Homo sapiens: one gene and its partner. The protein of the gene in region 1 interacts with the protein of each later gene in a pairwise test. Each region holds a gene or a part of one and is shown on either strand. Other genes may lie near its edges.

Region 1 (3,564 bases):
CCCCTCCCTGTGTCCATGTGTTCTCATTGTTCAACTCCCACTTATGAGTGAGAACATGCAGTGTTTGGTTTTCTGATCTTGTGATAGCTTGCTGAGAATGATGGTTTCCAGCTTCATCCATGTCCCTGCAAAGGACATGAACTCATTCTTTTTTGTGGCTGCATAGTATTCCATGGTGTATATGTGCCACAGTTTCTTAATCCAGTCTATCATTGATGGACATTTGGGTTGGTTCCAAGTCTTTGCTATTGTGAATAGTGCTGCAATAAACATACGTGTGCATGTGTCTTTATCATAGAATGATTTATAATCCTTTGGGTATATGCCCAGTAATGGGATTGCTGGGTCAAATGGTAATTCTAGTTCTAGATCCTTGAGAAATTGCCACACTGTTTTCCACAATGGTTGAACTAATTTACACTCCACCAACAGTGTAAAAGCATTCCTATTTTTCCACAACCTCTCCAGCATCTGTTGTTTCCTGACTTTTTAATGATCACCATCCTAACTGGTGTGAGATGTTATCTCATTGTGGTTTTGATTTGCATTTCTCTAATGACCAGTGATGATGAGTATTTTTTCATAGGTCTGTTGGCTGCATAAATGTCTGCAAGAAGGAAATTTTTATACTTAGAATCTTGCAGCAATCAAAACTGTGAGTGACAGTTACCTCGTTAGTTGGGATTCTGGGGTCACATACCTTCTTTTAGAAATATCCTGTCATGGAAACAACATGCTGGAGAGGATGTGGAGAAATAGGAACACTTTTACACTGTTGGTGGGAGTGTAAATTAGTTCAACCATTGTGGAAGACAGTGTGGCGATTCCTCAAGGATCTAGAACTAAAATACGATTTGACCCAGCAATCCCATTACTGGGTATATATGCAAAGGATTATAAATCATTCTACTATAAAGACACATGCACATGTATGTTTATTGCAGCACTATTCACAGTAGCAAAGACTTGAGACCAACCCAAATGCCCATCAATGATAGACTGGATAAAGAAAATGTGGCACATATACACCATGGAATACTGTGCAGCCATAAAAAAGAATGAGTTCATGTCCTTTTCAGGGACATGGATGAAGCTGGAAACCATTATTCTCAGCAAACTAATGCAGGAACAGAAAACCAAACACCACATGTTCTCACTCATAGGTGGGAGCTGAAAAATGAGAACACATGGACACAGGGAGGGGAACATCACACACTGGGGCCTGTCAGGGGGTGGGGGGCAAGGGGAGGGATAGCATTAGGAGAAATACCTAATGTAGATGATGGGTTGATGGGTGCAGTAAACCACCATGGCACATGCATACCTATGTAACAAACCTGTAGATTCTGCACATGTATCCCAGAACTTAAAGTATAATAAAAAAAGAAATATGTTGTCATATTATATGAAAATGTTATTACTTTGAGCAAGTGTCTTAATGTATCTCAGCTGTCTCTTAGATAAAATGGGAATAATAACAGTGCTCATTTCATAGGGCTGCCAGGAGACTTAAATGATAGCAACATAAAGTGCCTAGCAGAAGTCTGATAGGTAGTCATACTCAATAAAATGCTAATATGAATGTTTTCAAATGAAGAGAAAGATAGAACAATTAGCAGAACTAAATACAGTTCATTCTTATTATCCGAGACTGTTATCATGTCCTTCTTCATAGATTTACAGATTTCTTAAAAATATGTTTCCATTACAGCTCTGTGTCGGAAACCAGAATTAGTGAATGGAAGGTTGTCTGTGGATAAGGATCAGTATGTTGAGCCTGAAAATGTCACCATCCAATGTGATTCTGGCTATGGTGTGGTTGGTCCCCAAAGTATCACTTGCTCTGGGAACAGAACCTGGTACCCAGAGGTGCCCAAGTGTGAGTGGGTAAGTGGCACAATTCAAGGAAGTTCTGTGCTGTCGACCCCTAAAAATGGTGGCATCCCCCAGAGCTCTGTACCACTCAACAATGGTGAAATCTGACTTGTCAGGATTCATTTCTGAGCCACTCCCACTCAAAGAAACTCTTTTTGTCTTGAAGCATTCTGGTAAGTTAGGGGTGGCAAGTTCTCCTGTTCTCACTTGAGAACAGGAAAAACTGAGCCCTTACAGAGCAGGGTTTCATAGACCCAGTAGTACTGATTTCTAGCCTAACTTTTGCTAAGCTATATAATATATTGTTGTTCCATTTCTGGATGGTCAGCAAAAACAGCCTCTGTTACCATGGGGGCCTTCTGGACAGCTGTCTCAGAACAGATCCATGTTCCCCTGGGGAAGACTGTGGTGGGACCCAAGTGATTTCTTGTTTTCCCAGCCTCAACCACCAGTCTGAGGTTGGTCTTGGTTCAATCCTGTAGTCCTTCCACTGTCAGGATCCACCCTCCTTTATGATTAGAAGAGAAGCTTCTCAATCACACCCACCACTTATATCTTTTAGGAGACCCCCGAAGGCTGTGAACAAGTGCTCACAGGCAAAAGACTCATGCAGTGTCTCCCAAACCCAGAGGATGTGAAAATGGCCCTGGAGGTATATAAGCTGTCTCTGGAAATTGAACAACTGGAACTACAGAGAGACAGCGCAAGACAATCCACTTTGGATAAAGAACTATAATTTTTCTCAAAAGAAGGAGGAAAAGGTGTCTTGCTGGCTTGCCTCTTGCAATTCAATACAGATCAGTTTAGCAAATCTACTGTCAATTTGGCAGTGATATTCATCATAATAAATATCTAGAAATGATAATTTGCTAAAGTTTAGTGCTTTGAGATTGTGAAATTATTAATCATCCTCTGTGTGGCTCATGTTTTTGCTTTTCAACACACAAAGCACAAATTTTTTTTCGATTAAAAATGTATGTATAAAAAACTATTTTGTCTTTGTGGTCATTTAGGACTCTGTGAAATAAGCGTCCTTAAAAAACCCATAATATAAAGTTAATACATTAATACATTTGTTTTACTGTTTGGGCCACAAATAATAGGTACTTGGGTTTTCTTTTTTTTTTTTTTTTTTTTGAGACAGACTCTCACTCCGTTGCCCAGGTTGGACTGCAGTGGCACAATCTTGGCTCACTGCAACCTCCACCTCCCAGGTTCACACAATTCTCCTGCCTTAGCCTCCTGAGTAGCTGGGATTACAGGTGTGTGCCATCATGCCCAGCTAATTTTTGTATTTTTAGTAGAGACGGGGTTTCACCACTTTGGCCAGGTTGGTCTCGAACTCCTGACCTCAAGTGATCTGCCCACCTTGGCCTCCCAAAGTGCTGGGATTACCGGTGTGAGCCACCATGCCTGGCCATACTTGGGTTCTTATCGTGGACAGACTGCCTTTACTCCACAGTTTCATGTGTGCACAGCACTCATGTCCTCCCTGGTGAGGTTAAATGTCAACACACCCTCAAAGCCTCCCCCATTCTCCCGCTCTGGGGGAGTCACGCCTTCCCCTGAGCCCCTGTGCACGTTGTCTCTTTGACTCATGCCACATCTCCACTATTGCCTTCCATGAAGGAAGTTTGCTTTTGTGTCTGACTTCCTCATTCCAACCCCAGAGAAGGAACTTCGAAAGAC
Region 2 (3,824 bases), on another chromosome or scaffold:
CATTGTAAATACTTATAAATATTGCATTTATGGGTAGACAGAAGTAAAAGAACAATATTTGTTCTACTTTTGATGCAAGATTTATCTGGCATAATGCATTGAACAGTTTATTATTGAAGTCTACACGAGTCAATGGAACAAGCATTCATTGAATGTCCATGATATGCAGGACATAAGAAGGTTTCCTTTTAGAGCATGGAGCCATTTATATCATCTCTTAATTGTTAGATGTATTTTGTTTTGTTTTGTTTTGTTTTTTGAGAGGGAATCTTGCTCTGTTGCCCAGGCTGGAGTGCAGTGGTGCGATCTCCGCTCACTGCAACCTCCCGCCTCCTGGGTTCAAGCAGTTCTCCTGCCTCAGCCTCCCTGTAGCTGGGATTACAGGTGCCTGCCACCATGCCCAGCTAATTTTTGTATTTTTCGTAGAGACAGGGTTTCACTATGTTGGCCAGGCTGATCTCAAACTGCTGACCTCAGGTGATCTGCCCACCTCGGCCTCCCAGAGTGCTAGGATTACAGGCATGAGCCACCGCGCCCAGCCTGTTAGATGTGTTTTAAAATAAATAGAAATATAATTGATTTTCTTGCTTGCTTTTGCTCTGGAGTGGAGTGGAGTGAGGATAAAACAGAATGGAATCACCCTGTTGATATTTACTAAGATAGAAGGACTGCAGCAAGATCATAGCCCTAATCTTCCTGTAGCAAGTGTTACCTGCTAGCTGTTCCTGAATACACTGAGTTTTGCTTTTTCCTAGCTCTAATGAATGTTTCGTTCTTCCTCTTTTTGTACAGTGTCAGCATTGTTTTAGAAATAAATACATTCTAGAATCTTAGGAATAATTTTATTATTGTCTTTTTTTTTTTTTGAGACGGAATCTCATTCTGTTGCCCAGGCTGGAGTGCAATGGCGCAATCTCAGCTCACTGCAACCGCTGCCTCCTGGGTTCAAGCGATTCTCCTGCCTCAGCCTCATGAGTAGCTGGGACTACAGGCGTGCGCCATCACGCCTGGCTAATTTTTGTATTTTTAGTAGAGATGGGGTTTCACCATGTTGGCCAGGCTGGTCTCAAACTCCTGACCTCAAGTGACCCGCCTGCCTCGGCTTCCCAAAGTGTTGGGATTACAGGTGTGAGCCATTGCACCTGGCCACGAATCTTAGAAATAATTTTGGCCATAGGAAAAGGAAAAGTTATACCTCTTATTTTATAGTAATAATGTTTAATAATCAAGTTATTAAACCCATTAAATTGAGAACACTTGTATTACTGTTATTTTGACAGTAAAGGAAGAATGGTATGCCAGAATCACTAAATTAAGAAAGATGGTGGATCAGCTTTTCTGCAAAAAATTTGGTAAGTCTGTTTTTTTTAATTACCCCTTCAACTAAAATGTATTACTGAGTAACATTTTTTTAAATGTTGTTTTATTTTAGGAAAGTAAATACAGTGAATAGGACTCAGCTTTAGTTTTCCCTGTTTTTTTTTTTTGGGTTTTTTTTTTTTTCTTGAGAAGGAGTCTTGCTCTGTTGCCCAGGCTGGAGTGCAGTGGTACGATCTCAGCTCACTGCAACCTCCTCCTCCCGGGTTCAAGCAATTCTCCTGCCTCAGCGTCCCAAGTAGCTGGGATTACAGGTGCCCGCCACCACGCCTGGCTAACTTTTGTATTTTTAGTAGAGATGGGGTTTCGCCATGTTGGCCAGGCTGGTCTCAAACTCCTGAATTCAGGTGATCCACCCGCCTCAGCCTCCTAAAGTGCTGGGATTATAGGCGTGAGCCACCGCGCCCGGCCCCCATTCTATGAATTATCTGTGGAAAGTTATTTCCTTTAAAATGGCATGCTCGTGAGGTTGAAGGGGTAAAGAACATTGATCTGGTTGCCACGCAGATGAAAGTGTAGTCGGAAATGTGTTACCAGTTTGCCATAGCCGATGGAGGAGGGTAATTACGGTCCTGAACAGTTAGTAGCAAAAGGCTGCTTCCAGATAGTATTTAGGTTGTGTCCTCTATTGTCCATGATGATTTTCTTTCTCTCTTTTCTTCCTAAGGATATTGAAAAACAAACTTTAATCTTTTAAAGATCTCAGAGCTATTAAGATTGTCTTAGGACCAGGACACTTAAATCTGCCCAAATCTGGCTGTTGATGATCGGTCATCTCTACTTGTCTTTGCTGTATTAAGTCTATTCAATAGTTAATAAATATGTTTCTAGAAAGAGTTTTTTTCAAGTAAAACAAAATTGACCTGTGCCTTTCTTTGGATTGTACTAAAATCTGATTTCAATACAAATGTAGTCTCCCGAATTGCTTTGATTTTTGTCCAGCGGAAGCCTTGGGGAGCACTGAAGCCAAGGCTGTACCGTACCAAAAATTTGAGGCACACCCGAATGATCTGTACGTGGAAGGACTGCCAGAAAACATTCCTTTCCGAAGTCCCTCATGGTATGGAATCCCAAGGCTGGAAAAAATCATTCAAGTGGGCAATCGAATTAAATTTGTTATTAAAAGGTAAGATGATAATCTGTAGAAATAGTTTCAGTGTCTTCCCTGAGAAGAGGTTAATTTGATGAAGAAGGGCCTTTTGTTTACCTTATGACTTATTTCTATTGACAATGAAGGCATTAATATTTAGATTCACTTAGTGAACAAATATTAGTATAAGCATCAGATGTGCAAAATTGGGTCTAACAAGAACACTGTCCTTGGGGCCTTCATACAAAGAAAAATGCACTGAAGGCCGGGCGCGGCAGCTCACGCCTGTAATCGCAGCACTTTGGGAGGCCAAGGCAGGTGGATCACTTGAGGTCAGGAGTTCAAGACTAGCCTGGCCAACATGATGAAGCCCCATCTCTAGTAAAAATACAAAAATTAGCTGGAAGCGGTGGTGCAAGCCTGTAGTCCCAGCTACTCGGGAGGCTGAGGTTGGAGAATCACTTGAACCCTAGAGGCGGAGGTTGCAGTGAGCCGAGATCGTGCCACTGCACTCCAGCCTGGGCAACAGAGCGAGACTCCATCTCAAAATAATTAAAAAAAAAAAATAGAAAAATGCAATGAAGTGTTATTGAGCGTTTTTAAGGGAGAAGGCAAGGATGGCACACCCAGCTCGGTCACTTGTGCATCCAGAAGAGATGGAAGGTGTTTCAAGTGAAGGAAATCATATGAGTAGGGGGAGGAGGTGGCAAATATGCCTGCGTATCCACAGAACTCACCCACCGTGTGTGGAGTGAGGACTGCCACGTGGGCGTGGTGGGGTTGCATGGATCGACTTGGGTGGGCAAGTGGAGGAAGGCCTGAGATCCTACGAACACAGAGGCAGTCACGAAGTGGTCTCGAGGCAGATGCCTCTGAAAATAATGTGGATCCGCCCTTTAGAAAGGTAATTCTGGCTTGATTTTGAAGGATAACACAATGGTTAGTTTGGGTGCGGGGTTAGGAACAGAAGGCCTCTCTCCACTCATTGACGGGATGTGGAAGGGTAAACCTTCCTTACTGATTGGGGTCATGCCTCTGTGTGTTTGTTGGGACTGAGTTATAAGGGATAGGAAACGTTTAAGATGCTACAGCGAGCTGCTTCTGGCTGTGCTGTGGGACAGTTCATGTAAGATTCAGAAACAGAATTGAGCTGGTTTGGGGGAAAAGTGACTTTCGCCTGTTTATCTTAAATATAGGATGATTTTGAAGGTCTCACCCGAATATCTGAAAATTGCCATTTTCAAAATAAACTCGTCACCAAAATGATTTTTTTTTCACTATAAAATGAAGGCAGGATGAACCATATTTATAACTAATTGGCAATGAACAGCTGTGTGAGAAAGGCCTGTGAGTTGCT

What was found.
Region 2: the proteins of C4BPA (region 1) and GTF2I interact in a two-hybrid assay, tested with the Homo sapiens proteins (one large-scale study listed by BioGRID and IntAct).

Annotation. Positions count from the first base shown.
Region 1 is NC_000001.11:207,142,107-207,145,670, forward strand, and holds the end of C4BPA (C4b-binding protein alpha chain precursor), read left to right. Parts: intron 1-1,711; coding exon 1,712-1,887; intron 1,888-2,437; coding exon 2,438-2,611; 3' UTR 2,612-2,866; downstream 2,867-3,564. UniProt on the Homo sapiens protein: Controls the classical pathway of complement activation. It binds as a cofactor to C3b/C4b inactivator (C3bINA), which then hydrolyzes the complement fragment C4b.
Region 2 is NC_000007.14:74,734,181-74,738,004, forward strand, and holds part of GTF2I (general transcription factor II-I), read left to right. Parts: intron 1-1,280; coding exon 1,281-1,352; intron 1,353-2,319; coding exon 2,320-2,503; intron 2,504-3,824. UniProt on the Homo sapiens protein: Interacts with the basal transcription machinery by coordinating the formation of a multiprotein complex at the C-FOS promoter, and linking specific signal responsive activator complexes.